Regions from separate parts of the Homo sapiens genome. Here all the other regions are linked to region 1. The links come from fine-mapping of genetic effects on gene expression. A gene starts in region 1. Each other region holds a variant in brackets. All regions are shown on one strand. Distances are between the middles of the regions.

Region 1 (5,000 bases):
CCAGATATATATGTGCAGATAATGGGCAAGTATATATGTGTGCATATATATATCGGGAGTACACTATATAAACACACAATACACGCCCACCCACACACATTGTGTATTTTCCAGAAAAAAAAAAAAAAAGCATGTCAGGACTTACATCTAAGTTAGAGATGCTGTTTAGAACCCCATTAACAAATGTACATGTTATATCCCTGATTTGTTTCTCAGGACACCTGTGTTTATCTGAGAATCATTTCTAGACACATGTCACAATAAAAAGAAGGACATGTATACTCCAAGTTAAGATTTTTTTAAAAAAAGATGGAGATCATCTGAAATAAAATTCAGAGCTCTTGCCTTTCCTTTCTCCTAGCGACACCTAGAGCCTGTTGAGAAAAAAACTGCACATTGTTCTCATTCCAAACATCCACAATTCAACAATTTTAAGTCAGATTTAAGGTAAAAAGTACATTTTTCCTGTTTGCATTGCAGCTTAACTGTCTTCCCCAAGATTCTCGGTAGTTTAATCCTCCAGAACTCTTCACCCTCCCCCAATTAAACCATTTGCCAAAGACTTGAACCAGATGACTGAAGGATCTGTCTATTTCCCTCAGGGCTTGGCCCACCAAAGTGAGGGACATGCCTTTGAATGACTATTTAACCAGGGGAGTCTGGAAACGATGCAGGAGAAAATCACAAAACCTCATGCAAAATCTGACGCAGGGCTGTAGGGGGTGTGTACCTGTGTGTGTGCAAACCACATCTCCCACAAAGTTTTGTGATCTCCATTAAAGTTTCCACATCCTTCATTCATAAAACAAAAACTACCAATAACAACAGCAAAACCTCACTGATTTCATAGTATCTGGCAATTAGGAATTGTCCCTGGGAAATCACTCAATGTCTCACCCCTCCCTCGACCCAAACACAACTCTTGCACTAAAGAAATACGAAACAGGGAACCAGCGTGGCTGGAGGCTGCAGAGAGGTAATGACCAAAACCACCTACTCAGTGCCCGGCAATGTACTGCCCTGGGTATGTCAGGGTAGACTAAGTGAGAGGCCGGTGGGACCCCTGCGGTTCCCAGGTTGAGCAGTTGTGAAACTCCTCAAAGGCATACATAGTAATTTCTACAAACCAACACAGCCTAGCTGTTATAAGAGCTGTACCAGCCAAGCCAGACCTGTTTCTCTGAGAGCCTGTCGGGGATTTTTCTCTTTTCCCTGGGAAAAGAAGGCCTCAAAGAAAAAGCACAGTTTCCTCCCTTCTAAGTCCTAGCAGCCCTCTGCATCCTTGAAAGGGATCCACAGGAGGTGGTTAAACGCATCCATCTAAGGTCCGGCTCCTGTCCTGCATGAGTCATTGGTTACTAGGGCGATGTGCAAATCCAACCTTTGAAACCCAGGCTTCCAGCCCCCATGAAGAGTAGGAAATGTGCTCTCGGAGAAGTTTTCACTGAACACGGTCTAAGGCAGAGGTGCTAGTCCAGGGCTGGGAGGGGAGACAGACACGGCCTGAGGGCTCTCAGCAAAAGAGCTGGGCCCTGGGACAGAGGGTTGGGGCTCAGATGCCAGTATTTTGGTATTTTTTTTTTCCGGAAAGGATAATCACCATCACCACCGCTGGGGGGAAAAAGTGTCTAGGAGAAGTAAGAAGAGGAACGAAGGAGAGGCATTTGAGTCAAGGGACAGAGTGAGTAGGAGAGGAGGGGCACGATGGAGAGATTCCAGACACAGGTGGGAGGGAGAGAAGGTGCCTGAGGCTGTGTTCCCGGAGCACGAAATAAATAAAAAATAAACCAACTCGTAAGCACAGGCCGATCGAATTCTCTCCTTAGGAACCATAGCAGCATGCTGTTAAAAACAGACATCCGCGCACCCAGGGAACGTAAGGCGAATTCCAGATCCCAGCAGGCGCAGTACCCAAACCCCGCTCTCTCCAGCCACCAACTCCCGGCCGCCGCGGCTGCAGACACAGACCCGCTCCCTCCGGGACGCGGTGACCGCGATCTGGCGCCACGGAGCCTGTCTGGGGGCGCCCGGAGAGTCGTGGGCGGGGGGAGGGCGCCTGATTCCCCCCCCAAAAAAAATTTCCCCTGCCGACGCGTCTCGCTGCGCGCTCAGCCCGGAGAACCCGCCGCCGCCCCCCGCCCCCGAGAAGCTCTTACGTCCTCCTCGTCACCATCGCTCCGCGCCTGGTACTGGAACCGGGGCCGGCCACCCGCGCCGCCGCCGCCGCCGCCGCGCTCCCGGGGCGCCGCCGCCTGCGCCCGCGGGCCGAGGGGCTTGGCTCCTGCGCCGCCGTCCTCCTCGGGCCCCTGGCCGCCCAGGAGGTGACTCGCCTCCGGGGGCGCGGGGAAGGACCTCGAGGTGTTGATCTTGCCAGTGAACCTCTGGTACAGCGAAGCCATCGGGCACCGCGCTCCTGCTGGCTGTCTTTGGGGCTTTTTAATATTTTGCTTTCTCTCCGGTTCCCACTCCCCACCCCGCTCCAGATTAAAAAAAAAAAAAGGCGGTGGGGAGGCAGCAGCAGCAGCAGCAGCAAGGCAAGCCCAGCGCCGGCGGCCGCTCCTCCCGCGCGCCACTCGCGAGTCTCCGCTGGCGACTCTGCCTGGCTCAGCCTCCTCCGCCCCCTCCCCGGCGGCTCGCGAAGCCGGGGCTCTGGCTGTGCTTTCTCTCTTTCCTGTTTTTATAATTTTTTTCCCCAACTCCTTGCCACAGCCACGTACGGCCTAATCAAAGAGATTGAAGGAAGAAAAAAAACCAAAAACATAAAGCGAGGGAAATGCCTAGGCCCCAGAATTTGGCACCACCTAGAGACCGGCACACATTCCGAGCGCTCTCCTCGCTCCCCGCCCCCAGGCCCCTCGCGCAGCTCCTCCTCCACCCCGGCCCCTCCGCCCCCTTCCCCACCGGCCTCCTCCCCGCGCCCGGGACTGGCACCTGGGTGGCAGGGGTTGGCAGCCCGGAGAGGGCACGGGGTCGCACAAAAGGGTGCGAGGGTGCGTGAAGAGGGTGGAGGGGCTGGGACCACGCGGGTCGTGGGTGCGGGGGCGGTGGGGGAGTCCCGGGAGCTCAGGGTGCTGCGGCCCCACCGAAGGTAGTGCTGCGAGTGCCCCGCAGCACGCGAGCGGACGGTGCAAGGGGATGCGGAGGTCGAGGCAGGCAGGCCGGCCAGGGGGCGACTGAAGGTGCAGCCGGCCCCGGGGCGCCCCAGCCACGCACGCGCTGCGGCGCCGGGCTCCCCGCGCCCCCAGCTCCTCTTGCCTAACTTGAAGCAACACCAGAGACACCCCGAGGACCTGGGGTGCGAATGGGGCGTGGGAGAGCCACCAGGAGGGCGCGGGGTGGTCGGACGACGCTGGTGAAGAGGCCGCCCTCCCTCCACAGCCCAGCTCCCTCCGAAACCGCCCCTTCCCTTCGCCTCTCTCCGGAGGAGGGCAGGAAAGGTCGCGGGGCGGCAGAGGACGCCCAGAGGCCCAGGCGCCCCTCGCGGGCGATGCGCCCCGCAGAGAGCCCGGCTGTGACCGCGACTCCATTCTCATTATCATGAACGCAGGCGGAGGCTCGGCTCTCCGGCTGCCCGCAACTTTTCCAAAGCCTGCGCCTCACTGTGCCCGCCGAGAGCGAGGGAGGGCGACATGGCTCCACTCGCCGCGCGCTCTCGGGCTTGCCTCCTGCCCAGCCGCAGGAAGGCGCGCTCCAGCGCCCCTGTGTGGACACCCGCACCAGCGGGCTCCGCTCCTCCGCTCCAGGCCCGGCCTGGCTTCTCTTCCCCTCCCGGCCCTCCCGCGTCCTCCCCGGCTCCCTTCTGCACTCCTCTCCGTCCTTCTGGAGTTGCTGGGCACGCGTCTCTCTCGTCTCGTCCCCACGTCCTCCTTGCGCGCCCCTTCCAGCCCTTCCCGGCCGGGAAGGACCTATCACATCCAGAGAGTGAACGTGGGCCGGGAAACCCCAACTCCAGAGGGGGGAACCTGTGAGACCCGACCCTGCCCATTCCGCCGCCTCCTTCCACATGGAGGTAGGGCGTTGGCTTCATCTCCCAGGACTGCCTAAGGCTCCCTGCTCCTTCCGGGTTTCCATGCCTGTTTCCACTTAGGGTTTCAAAATAACAGCCTCGGCTGCCACTCACAAGGCTGACTGCAGGCTCGCCCCCAGCCCTGGCATTGCCCCAAGCCCAGAGAGAGGCCTGCCTGGGCCTGAAACTGCATGCTCCCTCTGTTTCCCTAACTGCGGGGGAGAATACTGGATGCCGGTGAACAAGTCTCCTGGGAAGAGACCTCCTTCAGTCCCTTCCACCTGCCTCCCTTCCCCAAGCTTTCAATCCAGTGTGTAGTTTTTGGTTTAACCAAAATTTGTACCACGCTCATCTTCTGTTTACTCCACAGTAGTTACCCTTTACTATGAAGAAACATGAGTTTAAAAACACTTTAAAAAATAGCAAATACAAAACCAAGTAAAACCAGGATTGCAACAGCTAAGCGAAACTTGCTGCATGGGAGAGGCCAGGCAGGTGGGTCTGGGGTGGGGAGAGCTTCAGCTGCTCCATTTGACTTTGAAGACAGAGGCAACAGAGCCATAAAACTAAACTTTAAAAGTCACCACAATTAGATAGATAGAAAACCTTGCTCTCAACCCCCTCCTCTGCCCCAGCTGTGCTTTTGATGGGAGGAAGCTGCCTCTCCTAACATGGACATGAAAGAAAGCTCATGCTATTCACCGCAGCATCGCGATCCTGACATTTCACTAAATATAGATGCAGTTAGGGTCCCACTTATGTAATATACATACGCTATCTATGAAATATGCATGCATATTTTTACACAAACTAAATGTCATACTAATATAGTTTATACAAAATACAATGATAGATGTGTGCATATTAATCATAGATAGAATACTATTGGGATAAAGCATATGTGCCACTTTTAAAAACTATATTCTCAAGGCATTGTAGGTAACTGTAATCTAACTAAAGTTTAAAATCTCAATTAAATTATCTAAGAAAATAT
Region 2 (7,621 bases), 530 kb after region 1:
CTTGGATTAATCCAATGAATCGAGTACAGGTTTGAGCATCCCTAGTCCAGAAATCCAAAAATCAAAATGCTCTAAAGCCAAAACTCTTTGAGGACTGACATGATGCCACAATTGGAAAATTCCACATCTGACTTCATGTCATCAGTCTCAGTCAAAATGCAGTCAAAACTTTATGCACAAAATTCTAAAAATATTGTCTAAAGTTCCCTTCAGGTGATGTGCTTGAGGTGCATATGAAGCATTAATGGATTTTCTGTTTAGACTTGGGTCCCATCCTCAAGATATTTCATTAGGTATGACACAGATGTTCCAAAATCCAAAAAGCGTTTTGGATAAGGGAGCGTCAACCTGTTCCTCCATGCTGGATGCGATGAGCTGGATTCTGGGAACACAGGGAACAACCCAGCACATTCACACACAGAGCTGCAGTGAGAAGAGGCGCTGGGTCTACGACAGCAGGAGGGTCACATGCAATTCTGGCCCTGCCATGGCTCCAGGTTGTGCTCCAAGGTCGAATGGGGGCTTATTTGCATCCAGAATTCCCCAGGCAATATTCATCTCCAAGTGAGGTCACACACACAGCAGGCTGCGCTTTCTCCCTGCCAGGCCTTCTGTCAGGGCTTCCACGGTGGACGAGCTCCCACTCCGCCATGTGTCCTGTTTCTGTCCTGCACGAAGCCCCCGCCACTTCTCTATTCCCTCCCACACCCCAGTTGTAGTCCTTGTGGATCCCACCTCCACAGCTTTGCCCATCTGCCCCCACCGCCCTCATCGTGCCATCTCAGTCAGGGGCTCTCATCCTGGGCAGACCCCGCTCATCCTGGAGGAGCCACAGCTCGACCTTCCCCACATCCTGAGATCCCCGACTATGTAGTGGGGGACGGAGAGGTTCTTGGGCATTTAGTACAAGACTTCAGGGTCCTCTTACTGTTTCACTGGTACAAATCTCAGCTACCAACATGATTATAACCCCTATGGTTAATTTAATTTGTTGTTTAAATCCCACAGGAAGAGGCAGATTATGCAGTCGTCTTCAAGGTGATGAATAAATACCCAAATTCAATGGAAAGCAAAAAGAAAACAGTAGTTGATACATAGTAAGCCATATAAAAGTGATTTATGCAAATTAACCTATTTAATCTTCATAATCCTATGGAATATGCACAGATAGGAAAATGACGGCACCAATATGATGGGTTAAGTGGCTAATGTCAGACCACTAGAAAGTGGTAGAGTTGGGATCTGAACTCAAGCAGGATGGCTCCAAAATCTGTATTATTTACCACTATGTTCTACTGCTCTCTTGATTTTTCATCTTGTGTGCAGCCCATATAAATATATATAAGGCAAATGTTGGTTGCTATAGAGTTCAGAACTAAGTATTACTTATAAATGTAGGAACTTTCTTCCGCTAGAATCTCTGGATGTAATGTTCCCTTTCTTTCCCTGGTAAAACTCTTTTTAAATAAATTATTCTGTGTTAACATTATTTTTAAAAGGAGGCCAAATGTGCATATATCTGTGCAATCTGATTTGCAATGAATATATTTGTTTATTCATCTATTCAGCTGTTATGCATTGAACATTTACTACATACGCTCACTCTGCTGGACACTAGGGATATGAGCAAAGTGCTATTTTTTGTTTTTTTGTGAGTTTTTTCTTTAATCTTAAGGATGCCCAATTTAGCCTCAAGGATATTCACAGTAACCACAGGCTGAGCACTTACTGTATTGAATGTTGTGCATGCATTATCTCATTTAATCCTCATAACCACCTTGTGGGAGAGTTACTATTATTCTGTCAACTTAACAAATGAGAAGACCAAAGATCAGAGCAACTAAGGGGCCTGCCCAGTATTGCAGAGATCATAGTTGCAAGGTTGGGATTGGGGCCCACGTGTGACCAACACCAGCACTCATGACCCTCACCCCTGCTCTGGATCCTGAGAGATGGCTCCTGTAGAGAGAGGTCTGTGACTGTCTGCATCGTGCCTGGAGCACACAGTGGGGTGGAGAAAGTGCTCTGAGGACCTGGAGGATGGAGTGAGGCATGCTGCCAGGAAGGCACACGGGTTTCTTTGATTGGGATCAGTACTCTTCTAGGCTCCCGTGTCTCACTGGTGAAATAACAGTGTTATCTCGGACATTCAAACCATCTTCTCACAGGGTCTCGGTTTGCATATGTGATGTGCCTGCCACTGCCAATTCCATCCTTCTGCTCCCAAGTCCAAACCCAGGATGCAAACAGTGGGCATGGAGGACTAACCTTTTAAAAAATATTTCACAAATTGCCGTCTAAATAGGATGATTCTGCCCGAGCTCTGTGCCACTTTCCCCTACAGGAAAACTAGCTAGTTCTTGAAACAATGCCTTATTAAGTTATAGTCTATGCCATTTCATTAAAAAGAAGTCATATCCTACTCCAAGTCACCTTCTGAACCATCAGGGGCTTGTGGACTGAGACCAAGTGCAGTGGGTGACCCTCAGCTCAGTCACAATTTGTGTGGATAGACCAGGGAGCCCACCATGCCTATAGCAGAGCTCCTACACCAGGGCCCAGCTGAGGCGGTGGATGGAGTTGCTGCTCAAGAAGCTCAAGTTGGGAGACACCCCTGCAGCAGCAGGAGCACTGAAAGGAAGGTCCAAAGACTTTCTGAGATGACAGGTCTTCTGCAGGTCTGCAATGCCAGCCATCTTTGTGATTCTTCTTCACTGAATCAGAATGACGGCTTCCTCAGATTCACTGCATGGTTCATTGGAAGGCACTAGAGGGCTTCTCTAGGAAAGAAGTGTTACCCCCAGAAACATGGCCCCTGAGTAAGCACTCTGGGGCCGCCCCTGTAACACCACCCTAGTAGGATTTGAGGAACGAATAAGCCAAAGGGGGAAATCATATATTAGCTGACATTTTATATTTCCTAACTTTGCTTTTTTTGCTATTTGAATGCTTCCTCCTGGGGAGTTTTAATGTGACTTTGTTTAACCTTTGACTACTGTTGAGCTCTGAGCATACTGAGGACCAGGATGGCATCTGCCCACTCCTTTCTCTCATTCTAGGAGGATATGACCTTGTATGATGGGGCTGTGCCAGGGCAGAGGATTCATACACGGAGCTAGTGGACCAGCTACAACTCTCTCCCTCCACCTCCTCCTTGGAGAGGCTCCAAAAAGCTCCCTCCCACCCTGTGAACACCTAGTACACAGGCGGCTGTTCTTTTTCTTTGGAAGTTGCATAAACAGCATCTCCCTAACAGGCAAAGCTCTCATTAGCAGTGTGTTCCTGTCAGCCGCCTGAAGTGAGAACATAAACACAGTCACCAAAACAAACGCCACCCCACTGGCCTCAG[C/T]CCCTGGTCTCTGCAGAGGTGGGCGGGGGAGGCCAAGAACAGGCTTAAAAGGAAAGGAATGGTCCTCTGTTTAAAGGCACGGGCCTGCTCTGCATTTGGCGTGCATACCCTGAGGCTGTTCAATTCATTCCTCCCCACTCCCCGTCTGTCTTGCTCCCTGGCTCACACCCTGGATTGGCACAGAGGCGGTGCTGCAGGGAGCTCTACAGAGGGCTCCTGAGGCCATGCCAGGGTCAGAGCAAGCTAGGGAGGGCAGAGACTGGGAGCGCTTGGGTGATCAGCTCTGACTGAGGCGCCGTCAAGGCTCCAGTCACAGGTATGTAAGAAAGCCCACATTATGGGGTGAATGGCGTTCCCCCCAAAACGCATGTGCTGAAGTCCCAGCCCCTGGCACCTCAGAATGGGACTGTCTACGGAGATAGCGTCTTTTAAAAAATAGCTAAATTACAATGAGGCCATAGGGATGGGCCCTCATCCAACCTGACTTGTGTCATTATAGGAAAAGGAGATGAGGACACAGGCACACACAGAGGAACGACCATGTGAAGACTCAGAGAGAAGACGGCCTTCTGCAAACCCAGCAGGGAGGCCCAGGAGAAACTGACATCTCGATTTTGGACTTCCAGCCTCCAGGATTGTGAAAAAATAAACTTCTGTTGTTCAAGCTGTCCGTCTGCAGGAGTTTGTCGTGGCAGCTCCAGGAGGCGTGGGAAGAGAGCTTTCCAGTGCCTCTCCCTCATGGGGAATTCTGCCCACCTCTCCCTCCACTGGCACTCACACTGGCATGTTCCTCCCCATGCCCAGGCTCCCGATGGACCCAAGCCAGCTTGCCTGCCAAGCAAATCAAGCTCCATTCGAAATTCTTAAATTGGCGAAACCAAGTAGACTTTAAGGAGGGCCCAAGACAGTTCTTCTTATTCCCGCAGTCCCAGCACGATGACTACTGCGTTTTTTCACTCCTTAATCCTGTTTTGCATGATAAATTATGTAATCAATTCTGTCTCCATACTTTTACCTATGCCTGCTCCTAAGCATCAGAATACTAAGTAATTAATAAAAGAGAATAAATCATTCTACTCATTTTTGAATACCGACATTCAGTTTCTTTTCAGTGGGTTAGGAAATGTGACATTAATCACAATATGTTGAAATTATTTTTTCAACATGCCATTAGATCTACTGTTGTAGTTCGGTTTCGTGAAACTAAGAAGACAAATCCCTCTTTCCTAGGAGATTCTTGGACAAAAATGAGTCCGTTCCAAGTCTTTCGGTCTTGCCTTAGGTTACACAGCAGCAGAGTCAGAACTAAAATTTTTGTTTACCTCACTTGTGAGCCAGAGTTCAAGATTATTTTTATCTTTTGGGGGGTGTGGGCTGTAGGCAGAGAGGATGAGTATTTTTTCTGTTTGTTCATTTGTTTGATTGGTTGGTTTTGACTGAATACTTGAAAATAAAGATAGCAGATCTCACCCTGATAGGCTCAAGCGTGGAAAGAATACTTCTTTTATAAAAAAAGAAAGGAAAGAAAAAATTTGAGCTGCTCCTGAGCATAAGCCCAGAGACAGGATTTGCCAGTTTTTTTTTCTTTTGCCTTTTTTCTTGCCTCCTGTTTTACTTCATGATGGTATATGGATCATTTGCCTGTGCAGAATCTTGTTGGAGATTTGAAACCCATTAAAAGGTTCTGCACTGTCCTTGTTCTTCTGTTGTTTCAAATTCCAGAGGGAGGAGTGAGGTCAGGCTTATATTAGCTCTGAGTCAGAAAAGCAACTCCGAGTACAAGCATGGAGGCAGGCGCAGGACTCCGATCTCCCTCTGCTTTATAAGGCAGCGAAGGCAAAAGCACGCAGCAGATGTTGCTCCTTGGTGATGGATGGTCCAAGAGTGTGCAGAGACTTGTAGCCAGCTGGCATGAGGGGTGGCCTTGACAAGAGTGGTTAATAATTGCTTGAAGGAAAGCAGTTTTCAGAATGAAGAACATCATGTTCTAATGAGGAATTTAATACCTGTGAACTTTACTAGAAATGGAACAATAAGGCTGTCAGAAATGGGTGCAAAATCTTCAAGAGCAGCTCACAGACTGGGAGAGATAGAACAGGAGAGACAACATGACCATGTTGATGCTGAGTCTATATTATTGCAACAAGATATATTATTTGCAACTTTTTTTTTGTTTGTTTGTTTGAGATGGAGTCTTGCTCTTGTTGCCCAGGCTGGAGTGCAGTGCCGCGATCTTGGCTCACTGCACCTCCACCTCCCGGATTCAAGCAATTCTCCTGCATCAGCCTCCTGAGTAGCTAGGATTACAGATGCCTGCCACCATGCTCAGCTAATTTTTGAATTTTTTGTAGAGATGGGGTTTCACCACGTTGGCCAGGCTGGTCTCAAACTCCTGACCACAGGTGATCCACCTGCCTTGGCTTCCCAAAGTGCTGGGATTGCAGGTGTGAGCCACCATGCCTGACCCCTATTTGTAATTTTTAACAACTGTTTTGGGATGTAATTTAACCCCACTCCACCCACTGTAAGGGCACAATCCAATGACTTTCAGTAAATGTGTGCAGCTAAGCCATCCCTACAATCCAGTTTGCAGCATTTCCATCACCCCAAAAATTTCCCATCACCCTCCTTGCAGTCAATCAATGCTCCCATCGCCAGCCTCAGGCAACCACCAGTCTGCTTTCTGGCTCCGTAAACTTCTATTTAATAAGGATTCTTTGTGTCTGGCTTCCTTCACTTAGCATGTTTTGGAGTTCTGTCCATGGTATAGGAGGTGTCAGTAGTTCCTCTTTTATTGCTGAATAATAATGCGTTGCATGGAGATACCAAATTCTGAATTCACCAGGTGACAGATATGTGGGTTGTTTCCAGTTTGGGCCGCCTTGAAGAATGCTGCCATGAACGTTCACATACAAGTCTTTTTGAGGATGTATGTTTTTATTTATTGCAAGCAGATTCCTAGAAGCGTAATTACAAGGTCTTTGGGAAGTTTATATTTACCTTTTTAAGAAACTGCCACACAATTTTCCAAAGTGGCTGTTCCATTTTACATTGTCACCAGCAATGTATGAGGTTCCTTTTTTTTTTTTTTTTTGAGACGGAGTTTCACTCTGTTACCCAGGCAGGAGTGCAGTGGCCAGCACGATGTGGACTCACTGCAACCTCTGCCTCCCGGGTTCAAGCAATTCTCCTGCTTCAGCCTCCCGAGTAGCTGGGATTACAGGTACCCACCACCACGCCCAGCTAGTTTTTCGTATTTTTAGTAGAGACAGGGTTTCATCATGTTGGCCAGGCTGGTCTCAAACTCCTGACCTCAGGTGATCCATCCACCTCGGCCTCCCAAGCTGGGATTACAAGCGTGAGCCACCGTGCCCGGCCAAGGTTCCAGGTTTTCTAAATGTAGAAGTATCAACTTTGTATTGTGTGTCTTTTTAAAAATTGTAGACATCTTTAGTGGGTGTGAAGTGGTTTTCATTTCATTTCTTTAATGTTTATTGATGTTTAACACCTTTCCAAATGCTTAGTAACCATTTATATGTCTTCTTTGGTGAAATGTCACTCAAGTCTTTTGCCCATTTGTAAGTCGAGTTGCTTGTTGCTATCGTTGTTGTTGTAAGTATTCTTTATATATTTGGCATATCAATCTTTTATCAGAGGTATGATTTGCAGATATTACCTAATAGCCTGTAACTTACCTTCGAATTTTCTTATGGTGTATTTTGAAGTGCAAAATCTCTTACATTTAAGAACTGAAATGTAAGAACAGCTGCCTGCTGTTGCTAATCCCTTCTGTGGCATAAGGTCACCTCTTTGGTTTCTTAGCTTTCCCTTTATCAAAGTAAGCAATTTCCTCCCAGATTTCTTCTGGTTTAAGAACTACAGGTGGTTTCTATTTTCCTTGTTGAACCCTGGCTAATATACCGATAAAGTCCTGATGTTTTATTTCCTTCTGATAATGGATCTTTCTCCATGTAGTCTCTCTCTCCGGAATGGTCTCTCCAATTCCTTACCCCTTCCATCCAGGCATCCCCACACATGTGCCTTTAACCAAGAAAACTTGCATTATTTAGACCTCAGCTGACAAGTCATTTCCCTCACATGTCTTCCTTGACCCCCGGTCTAAGCCAGCTTTCTTCTCTTCCTCAAGTGTTCACTGCGTGAGAGCAGGCACTCTGTCTACTCACTGCCACATTCCCATCACTCAGCACAGTGCCTGGTACATGGCGGGAGCTCAATGAATAGGTCTGAACAAATGAAGGTATGATAATTCAG
Region 3 (5,000 bases), 830 kb before region 1:
GTGAATGTGAGCGTGTGTGTGAGCATGTGTATGGGTGAGCATGTGTGTGTGTGTGAGCAGGTGTATGTAATCGTGTGTGTGAGCATGTGTGTGTATGAGCGTGTGTGTGACACCATGTGTATGTGTGAGCAGGTGTATGGGTGAGCATGTGTGTGTATGTGTGAGCATGTGTGTGAGAGCAGGTGTATGGGTGAGCGTGTGTGAATGTGTGAGCATTGTGTGGGTGAGCATGTGTGTGTATGTGTGAGCGTGTATGTGAGCATTTGTGTATGTGTGTGAATGTGTGAGCATGTGTATGGGTGAGCATGTGTGTGTATGTGTGAGCACATGTATGTGAGAGCATGTGTATGGGTGAGCAGGTGTATGGGTGAGCATGTGTGTGAATGTGTGAGCATGTGTGTGTGAGCATGTGTATGGGTGAGCATCCATGTGTATGTGAGTCTGTGAGCATGCGTGTTGGGAGCATGGAGTGTAGAGAACCCAGGTACCTGACTGAGACCGTGAAGCGCAGGTCATGCCAAACTCCAAGATCAACCATTTATGACCTGCACGATCGTTCCGGTGTGTTCCTTTAATAGGGCAGGGGCACCTTGTCTAATGACAATGAAAGAAGATTTTCATTTTCTGACAAATAATATTTATTGTCAGTGAACTCCACACGTCCTTACTTGTCATTCTTCGTTTTCTTTAAATCTCATTTTCCTGCAGGGCCACGCGGCCTGCTCTGGTTTAAATGAGAGACAGGCAATCTTCTGCAGGGGGGATTTTCGGTGTCGGGGGGGAAACTGCAGAACATAACGCACAGGTGCCCCCTTGCTCTCCAGGTCACCTCTGGGTGCAGGGTGGCTGCTGCTCCCCTGGGCTCTGTGTCCCAGGTCCTGCGATGCCTGACAAAGGCTGCAGCCAGATCACTGGGGCACATGCGAGGAGGAAACAGAATGGACAGGCCGCAACATGCCAAGCCACTAAAAGGATTGACGCTTTATTCTTCAGAGGAGAAATACCATTGTGGGGTCTACGGACCTCTATCTAAGGCTTGTTAAAACAAAACAGAGATGCTTATGCTCTGGAAAGACGCCCGGGATCCACTGGGCAGAATGGCAAAGGAAAGATCCCCAGCACGGAGCTCAGACAGATGTCCTCGGCGGAGCTGAGTGCGGGGGTACAGGGTGTGGGGGTGCATCAGTTGTGCTCTGACAGGTGCACAGGGTCCCCTTTCCCTTTGGCACCTCGGCTGCCTGTGCTTCTGGACCAACTGCCTGTTGAGAAAGCCTCTCTGTGTCCAGAAGTGAACTATGAAAGGCCCTGAGTGGATGGACTATATGCAAGGCACAGGAAGGAGGCCAAGCCCTCAGGAGTGGCATCCATGTGCATTTGGGGCAGAGTGACGACTGGAAAAGACTGACCACGGCCCAGGCTCCCTGCCTTTCAGCTGCCAGTCTGCTGGGAAGTCACTTCCATGAGGGTGGGGAGAGGTGATGGCTATTGACACCCAAGTTACACCTACCAATGACCCAGTGGCTTCGGGCCTCACAGGCAGTGAGTGGACATCTAGGCACCTGGAATGCACCTCTAGGGCTCTGTGCCCGGGCTCTGAACAAGGAGAGAAGCCGCCGGCCCTCCTCCTGACCACTTCACCTCCGGCAGGTAAGGAGGAGGTGTGGGAGGGCTCCTGCATCCCCTGCTTCCGGGAGCAGCCCACAGGGCAGGGCCGGGTCTCCAGTGCATGCTGGGCTCTGAGGTTTTGGAGGCGATGACGTAAGAGGCACTGTGCTGATTACTTGTCCAAGCCTTCACCTGCGGGGGTGTCACAGCAAGGCCTCCTCTGCAGGGCCTGTGCTGAGGGTCACTCCCAGAGGGAAGATGGGTCTATACCGACCCATCTGTGTGCTGGCCTTCTTGAGATCAAGAGGCCCCAGGTCTAGGCTAAGGAGAATGAGGGGCCATGTACCAGGGCCATAGTAGGTGGCGGTGCAG[A/G]GACCTAACTCCAAACCGTGGGCCTCAGCTACAGCTGAGCTGTCCCAGGCTACAGCCTTCTGACAAGGGCCACCAGATGGGAGCGGCTCTGGTTTGAGAGTTCACTGCGCGACCCTCCCCACACCTGTGCTTCCGTCTAAGTAGACATGGTAATTAACGTTGTTACTCCACATCGAGTTATCCAGAAATAGATTCCTGCTTTGCTTCTTTCCTGGCTACCATGCCAAGAGCTACAGCAGATGGATGGGAGAAAAGTCATTAGGAATGTATTAGAGCTCTCCTGCGGGGACTTGGCTTCCCTTCTCTTTCCTTCCAGATAATGTAAAAAGAAACTTAGGAAAATGAGCTGATCAAATGAAACCTCCCACGGCTGGAATCACTAAGCACCCAGGCTCTTGATTTTAAAAAATTACTTGCTCACCAGCAGACCACAGACGTTCTCAATAAATCAGGATTAGACGTGGGTAATGGTGCAGGCCACACTGGAACTGAGGGGTTTTCAGACCAGGGTGGCGCAGACTCACCTTCCCAAACACGGCCACGCGCGTCCTGTCAATGTACTGCTCCTTCAGCATCGTCCTGTGAGGTCGAGGAGGGGAAAGAGGGTTCAGTGCACATCCTGCTGCCACTTTGTCTTCCTGTAGCCCAGAGCCATGTTTTCCATCCATTTCAAGGATGAAAACCCCTCTTCAAATAAAAAGCAACCTTAGCATTCCAATATAATTATTTATTGCTTTTATTTATTTAGTGCCAAGTCAGCATGTTCACGTTAAAACCTCAAAGCACCCTTGCAATAACTCTGTAGCACTTCCAGGTATAGAAGCTTCTCGACTGCGAGCCATTAATCCACAGCCGCAGAGCCCCTTCTGGGAGACGCAGCCCCTGTTGCATGGGGTCCATCTGCTGCTATTGGGCCCCCACCCAGAGCCTGTGACTCCAAGCACGCGGGCTCTGGGATGAGCCTTAGGGGTCGGCAGGAATCTGTGGAGCTCTGGTTCTATGCTTCTGGGCTCAGAGTCAAGCCAGTGAGACCCCATCCCACCTGCACAGCCTTCTGTTCCCAATTCCTGGGAGGAGGCCCCTGTCTTGTACCTGTTTGGCCACAGAGGGATTCTTCCCATGAGCTTCCTGCTACGGCCCAGCCTTGGCAGCAGCCGCTTGGTGCTCTGGGCCTCAGTGCTCTGGGCCAGTGCTGCCTGGGTCCCTGCCTCACCCTTGCTGGGACCTTGCCCCGCATTGTGGTCTTCTGCTTCCCCCACGAAGTGGCTGGGGTCCTTCCGGTTTCTGGACCTCAACCAGCAGCAGGACGCCTGCAGGCTGTGGGCTTGTTGCTTGTTAGATGGAAATTATTGTCTGTCTGGATTTTACCTCAAGCCAAGCCATAATGTCAAGTGTGGAGTTAGAGATATTTTTAGACATTTTCTAGTAAAGAGGAGAAAATATAATTTCTTTTCTCAACCCTTATGAGTTCCTGGTCGAGACACTGTCACTGTCCTGAAAATGAAAGTCAGATGAACAAGAGGAAAACCGGAAGAGATTTCCTGGCGTGCGCTGTGCCCTCCACGTGGCGGAGGCCTCAGTTCCAGTGCCTCTTAAGGCAGTGGTGTAGGGGCCCTGTTTACACAGTATTTTAACAAAGAGCCATAACTCTCAGCATAGTGACCAGGCAAAGGAGAGAGCAGCTCCAGTCTTTTATTTATTTACGGTTTTCTTTTTGAGATGGAGTTTGGCTCATTGCCCAGGCTGGAGTGCAGTGGCGTGATCGTGGCTCACCGCAACCTCTGCCTCCCAGGTTCAAGCGATCCTCCTGCCTCAACCTCCTGAGTAGCTGGGATTACACCTGGCTGATTTTTGTGTTTTTTTTTTTTTTTTTTTTTTGAGACGGAGTCTCGCTGTCGCCCAGGCTGGAGTGCAGTGGCACAATCTCGGCTCACTGCAGGCTCCGCCCCCTGGGGTTCACGCCATTCTCCTGCCTCAGCCTCCCGAGTAGCTGGGACTACAGGTGCCCGCCACCTCGCCCGGCTAATTTTTTGTATTTTTTTTTTTTTTTAGTAGAGACGGGGTTTCACCGTGTTAGCCAGGATGGTCTCGATCTCCTGACCTCGTGATCCGCCCGCCTCGGCCTCCCAAAGTGCTGGGATTACAGGCGTGAGCCACCGCGCCCGGCCGATTTTTGTGTTTTTAATAGAGACGGGGTTTCACCATGTTGGCCAGCTGGTCTTGATTGAACTCCTGGACTCCGGTGATCCGCCCACCTGGGCCTCCCAAAGTGCTGGGATTACAGGCGTGAGCCACCATGCCCAGCCCCCAGTCTTTTAAAAGGAGGGAACCTGTGAGAAGGCAATGCAATCTGCCCCCAGAGACCCTGGCAACGGCTGGGACCCTCTCTGGGCTGATGAGCAGGTGCTGTCCCCAGGAAGGAAGGATGGATGTCCTGGCGTCTGGCAAACAGGGGCAGAGGCAGAGAGTCCCTGTGTTTTCAGTATCTTTCACTTAGCAGGTCTCAATATTTTGGGGATAACTATTTTGGCTTCCTCCACTAGCTACGTGAACAAATGAGTAAATAAAAATGAGGCATTTCTGCTGCTCCTTAGCACATGACCCAGGGTGTCTGTGTGTGTACACATGAGCACGTAGGACCCAAAAGAAACAATCGTGAAGAAAATCCCAAGTTGAGCCCAGAGACAACCTGTCTCTAGGAGACAGGAGCCCACCGGCCCTAGTCGGGTTTACACAGCTGCCCGCTGCCTTCCACAGGGGTGGGACGAGCTCCCTTCCACAGCTCATCTCAGCTGCTCGTGGGAGGCTGGCCTGTGGGCTCCTCGGTGAGGATATGGTGGTGGTGGACGGGGGAACTGTGGGAGTGGGAGGAGTCAGGCTAATGTGTCAGCCTCCTGATTTTAGGTTTCCGATCAAATTGGGCTATTTCTTTCTGATGAATGAAAATGCAGACCTCGTTCCTAGGGAGAGCTGAGGGAGGCTTTCTATGGCTTGGCGCCATTGGGCATCAGCTTCCTAAGAAA
Region 4 (5,000 bases), 380 kb before region 1:
TTTTATTTTAATTGTATCAGTCCAGGTTAAACATTATTTTATGACCCAATGTCTTTAAATTGTTACAGGTTTAAAAAGCCTGAAGACGCCTTTATTGTTCTTATAGGTAAAATGGATTTTAAAGAAATAACCACAGTTTAAGATAGACTGAGACCTGAGGCATGTGTTTTAGTCACAACATGTACAACATGAAAGGAAAGACAGAAATCTTTGTTTTACTTCAGACATTGTGTAACAGAGGAAAAGAACGTGTAGGCCTAAAGGAAAGCAAACAGTGATGATTTTGTTGGAAAGTTGGACCTGTAAGGAAACGCGAAGGTAATCAGTGTACTTATCTGGAGAAAAGTGGGCCAGGCCAGAGCTTAATTACTGCCTCCAGATATAATGCATTTGTATAATCCAAAGGATTTTGGACAAAAGAAATAATAATTATCTAGTTCCTAGGACAGAAGGAGAAGACTAATTGACATTATGAGGAGTGTTTGAAATAGCTTCATGTATTTCTCAAAATGATGGTACAAAAATAGCCTTAGAACCCCCGGGTGTGCACGTCAAATGCAGATTCCTGGACCCTCTGAACTGGAGTCTCTGGGGACAGGGTGGGAGAACGTTTGTGTTTCACAATGTGCCCAGTACACGCTTATAAACAATGAAGTATGAGGCCGGGCGAGGGGGCTCATGCCTGTAATCACAGCACTTCGGGAGGCTGAGGCGGCCGGATCACCTGAGGTCAGGAGTTCAAGACCAGCCTGGCCAATAGGTTGAAACCCCATCTCTACTAAAAAAACAAAAACAAAAAAAATGCAAAAATTAGTCAGGCACGGTGGCATGCACCTGTAGTCCCTGTCTCAGCTACTTGGGAGGCTGAGACAGGAGAATTGCTTGAACCTGGGAGGCAGAGGTTGCAGTGGGCTGAGATTGTGCCACTGCACTCCAGCCTGGGCAACAGAGTGAGACTCTGTCTCAAAAAAAAAAAAAAAAAAAAAAAAAAACTTGCAGTCTAGTATGAGAGCCATTACCTACAGGAACTTGTTATATCTGTAACCTGGATAAGTCAGTTTGGTAAAGCCCCTTGCAACTGGTTTAAGAATGGAAGGCTCAAGAGTTTGTGATGGCAATTTTCCAAATGCAAAATTCTGTCCATTAGCACATCATAGACCAGTTTAGAAACATGCCCATTTAGAAACAAGATTCTGATTGGCTGTCTTACAGCCCTTGACTGGACTTATTTAACTACCATATGAGTACACATTATATGAGGGCAGCTTTTCCTAAGTACAATTTTTCTTTTACCAAGTCAAAAGCAACATGGGTGACCAGTGACATCATTATCGAACAGAACTCATGACCTGTGATGCCCACTTCCGTGTCTTGAATGTTTCAAAAAAACTCAAAATTTGAAACCCACGCTCAGCATGCATAAGCTTTGTGGCTAGCACCATAATGAATAAATAAACTGGTAAAAACAATAATGACAATAACCAAACCCAATGCATTATAAAATCCAGTGCAGGTGTTGAAAGCCTGTTCATCTACGTGTGACAGAACACACGGACAAGAGCAGTTTCGGTCCCGATGGAGAAGGGGGTGTGTGTTTCCCCCCGAAAACCCCTAGATCATTGTTAAGAGAAAAGAATCTCTCTATTAAAAGGCTATCTCATTGTCCCACACTGGCCTCTTTTTGTCCAAAATGTTCAGACATGTATCAAGCAACAGATCTCAGGGTACTTAGGGCCATAAATATTTGTACTGATTAATTGTGACTATTATTATTAAATAAGTGACAGCAACATACACATTCCATACCAGAATGCGTGAAAACCATGTTCTTGTAACATAGCAGCATGATATAAGCAATTTTCAAGAGAATCTTCAAATAACATGTATTAGAAAACAGCCAGGCAACTTAGTACATGGAATTCATTAGAGCCTAAATACTTAAAACTAGCTTTACTTAATATTATGGCAGATTAACTGAGGAAAAGCTAAACTACTTGTACTGTGATTTTTGCTCTTCATTTCTTTGAATTATTTTGGACCCGGAAACTGCTTTACTCAGAGCACCTCCTTACC[G/A]TTACCCCCATTTTTTCTTCCAAGGGAAGTGGAGGGTGGAGAGGCCAAGGAGCTGGGCCAGGCTGAGATCAGGGCACAGGAACAGATGCACCCAGCCTGAAACCACAGAGCCCAGGGCTACCAGGAGCTGAGCGCTGTCCTGGATCACTGGGCAGATACCAGGAGAAAAGGAAGGTCCTGAATACCAATTCCAAGGAAGTCGGGTAAGAAAGGGAGAAGGAAAGGCTGGGTGCGGTGGCTCTCGCCTGTAATCCCAGCACTTTGGGAGGCTGAGGTGGGCGGATCACGAGGTCAGGAGTTTGAGACCAGCCTGACCAACATGGAGAAACCCTGTCTCTACTAAAAATACAAAAATTAGCCAGGCGTGGTGGCATGCACCTGTCATCCCAGCTACTCGGGAAGCTGAGGCAGGAAAATTGCTTGAGCTTGGGAGGTAGAGGTTGTGGTGAACTGAGATCATGCCACTGTACTCCAGCCTGGGCAACAAGAGCAAGATTCCATCTCAAAAAAAAAAAAAAAAAGAAAGAAAGAAAGAAATAATAAAAGAAAGAAAAGAAAAGAAAAGAAAAGAAAAGAAAAGAAAAGAAAAGAAAAGAAAAGAAAAGAAAAGAAAGGAAAGAAAAACAGAGCCTGACATGAGGTTTTGACGACAGCGGCTATCTGAGCCTTTGGAGCTGGGGGCCTGGAGTGTTCTTCCACTGTCCGCCTGCCTTTTGTGGGTGGTGTGGAGCAGGCCCTGGGGAGTGGCGCAGGGAAGCAGGGTGGGTCTAGGCTTGCTGGAGCAGCCCTGAGCTGGTGCTGCTCAGTGATGATGTAACTGCATCTTGAAAGACGGCCTTGGCGCTTCCCCCTGGTGGCCTGTGGCTCCCAGCGAGCATCCTTGGCAGCTGTTCTCAGGGCACCACGGTGTTCTGAACACAGGCCTTTGCGTTCCTCCTTCCTCTGAGGACTTCACCAACACTTCCCTTGAGGTGCACTGTCTCTCATCTGAACACAACCAGTGTTGCTCATGTCTTCTCTCTGGGTGCCAATCAAAGTAAGCGCCGTGAGCACAGGACATCATCAGGATCCACCTCTCTAGCACCGTGGAGCCTAGTGACATTTTCACACGTTGAACTTGCAATATTGGTTTCCTGAATGGAAGACTTAACTTAACGAAAGAAACATTCGAATGAGTCAGACATCCCTGGGTTTGCCTCCACCATGTGCCAGCTGAGCTTCCATCCATTAAACTCCTGGAAGCTCATATGTCAGCTGGGAATAACACAGCCCTTGCAGCACTGAAGTGAGGATTAAAGACAACATAAAGAGCCTCTAGCAGAGCGTCAAGCACAGAGTGGGCAGTCAACACACGGTGGCTATCAGCAGCCATGACCTATGCAAACACCACCAAAGGGCACCTGTGTTGCACGGCTGGGGAAGTGCTATGGGCTGAATGTTTGTGTCTCCCCAGATTCATACAATGAAATCCTAACTCCCCAATGTGACAGCACTAGGAGGGGGGCCTTCAGGAGGTAATTAGGTCATGAGGGTGAATGGGCTTAGTGCCCTTCTAAGGAGACTCAAGAGCCTGCTCTGTGCTCTCTGCCATGTGAGGATACAAGAAAATAGCCATCTACAAACCAGACCTGACCACGCCAGCACACTGACTTCAGATTCCCCAGCCTCCAGAATCATAAGGAATACATTGCTGCTGCTTAAGCTGTGCAGTCTGTGGTATTCTGCTACAACAGCCTGAATTGACTGATGCAAGAAGTTAAAGTAAACATACAAAGGGTATCTCTATAGCAGCAAGGCTCCCCAGTTGACTTGCATCATTAAACTAACCCCGTGCCTTAGTGCTGTCTACTCACAGGGAAACGAAAGCCTTGGTCCAGAGATGAGAGGCAGCAGCGTGTTTAAGCATCTAAGGCCGTCGAGGAGCCTGGGGAATGGAGGCGAGCGCAACAGTGCCAAACCCTGAGATTCTGACAGCGGCCCCTAGAAGAGGAGCTTCTCACCTTCAAAGGCTGAGAACTGGGAGGGTGGATGGAAACTTGCCGTCTGACTCTTTGAGGGTGGGAGGCAGGCTTTAGAATATCAGGAAGGATGGCCTGTATTCCAGAAACCAGACAGCACCAGGCCAGGAACGCTCTGTGCTGGTGGTGACCATAATAAATGCCAGGACTGGAATATAATACCCAGCTCCATCTGAAATGTCTGTGACGAGCGCGACCTGCATTGCTGATGTGACATAAGACACGTGGTACTGCTGTGTTTCACCGGCCTCGCTGCACCTCATTCAAGCCCTGCCTAACCCCGGTACTCCAGGGAGGAACGTGGTCTCCACATTAGCCTTGGGTCCTCCTTGACTTGGGTAGCCATTCCGAGGCGGGCACCTGTTTCTCCATATTCAACCATGACAGTGACACATCTTCCTGATAACACTCAAATAAACAGCGTTTGTGTTGTCACACAGCTGTAAGCCTGCCCAGATTGCCTCCCGAGTTCACGAAGCCTCTTGAGTGTGTTACCCAAGAGGGTTATTTTATGTGGCTGTTAAAAGCGATGCTCTGTCGTAGTGAACCACAATGCTGAGAGACCCAACTCCAACAATCAAGAAAGAGAGGCACTAGAGGCACTGTGCTTTCCAATACATGAGAAGTTTTCTTCCCTTGAAAGGTGAATGGAAAGGCTGGGACTTGGCAGACGTGGGTTGGGTTGTAGGTCTGGCTGCCCACCCATCTGTGAAGCTAGGTGGTCAGAGGAGCGTCAGCAAATTCGTTAGGCCTTGCTGTGCTCGCACGTGGATTCCACTGACCAGCTGGATGGATTTCCCAGAACTCATTCATTTGATCAAAACAAGGATAAGACAAATTATGCTTTTTTTTTTTTTAACAGATTAAGAAGCAGAAGCTCAGAGAGGTTAAGAGACTTGCCCAAGGTCA

Alleles and levels. Positions count from the first base shown, and alleles are read on the strand shown. Sizes are in standard deviations (SD) of each study's normalised expression.
With allele C in place of T in region 2, the expression in sigmoid colon of the gene that starts at base 2,822 in region 1 is lower (small effect, 0.26 SD a copy in GTEx).
For the expression in cerebellum of the gene that starts at base 2,822 in region 1, allele G in region 3 goes with a lower level than allele A (moderate effect, 0.59 SD a copy in GTEx).
In carriers of allele A in region 4, the expression in skeletal muscle of the gene that starts at base 2,822 in region 1 tends to be lower than with G alone (moderate effect, 0.42 SD a copy in GTEx).

Evidence for each region. PIP is the estimated chance that this variant, and not a neighbour inherited with it, causes the effect.
Region 2: its variant is fine-mapped to the expression of DPP6 in sigmoid colon (GTEx, PIP above 0.99). The same link has a PIP of 0.9 or more in esophagus muscle and gastroesophageal junction.
Region 3: its variant is fine-mapped to the expression of DPP6 in cerebellum (GTEx, PIP above 0.99). The same link has a PIP of 0.9 or more in cerebellar hemisphere and testis.
Region 4: its variant is fine-mapped to the expression of DPP6 in skeletal muscle (GTEx, PIP above 0.99).

Annotation. Positions count from the first base shown.
Region 1 is chr7:154,050,220-154,055,219 of GRCh38, reverse strand. DPP6 (dipeptidyl peptidase like 6) reads right to left here and starts at 2,822. Exons shown (of 26, transcript NM_130797.4): 1 at 2,157-2,822. The coding sequence starts at 2,399. RefSeq lists an enhancer at 3,329-3,931.
Region 2 is chr7:153,520,053-153,527,673 of GRCh38, reverse strand. It overlaps LOC107986750 (a long non-coding RNA gene), which reads left to right and starts at 3,443. Exons shown (of 2, transcript XR_001745034.2): 1 at 3,443-3,665; 2 at 3,849-4,437. The variant C/T (reference allele first, on the strand shown) is at 3,350.
Region 3 is chr7:154,878,444-154,883,443 of GRCh38, reverse strand. DPP6 (dipeptidyl peptidase like 6) reads right to left here. Exons shown (of 26, transcript NM_130797.4): 21 at 2,502-2,556. Among named protein-coding and RNA genes, the nearest start is that of PAXIP1-AS2, 48 kb to the left of the region's middle. The variant A/G (reference allele first, on the strand shown) is at 1,978.
Region 4 is chr7:154,429,129-154,434,128 of GRCh38, reverse strand. All of the region lies in intron 1 of DPP6 (dipeptidyl peptidase like 6), which reads right to left. Among named protein-coding and RNA genes, the nearest start is that of DPP6, 380 kb to the right of the region's middle. The variant G/A (reference allele first, on the strand shown) is at 2,074.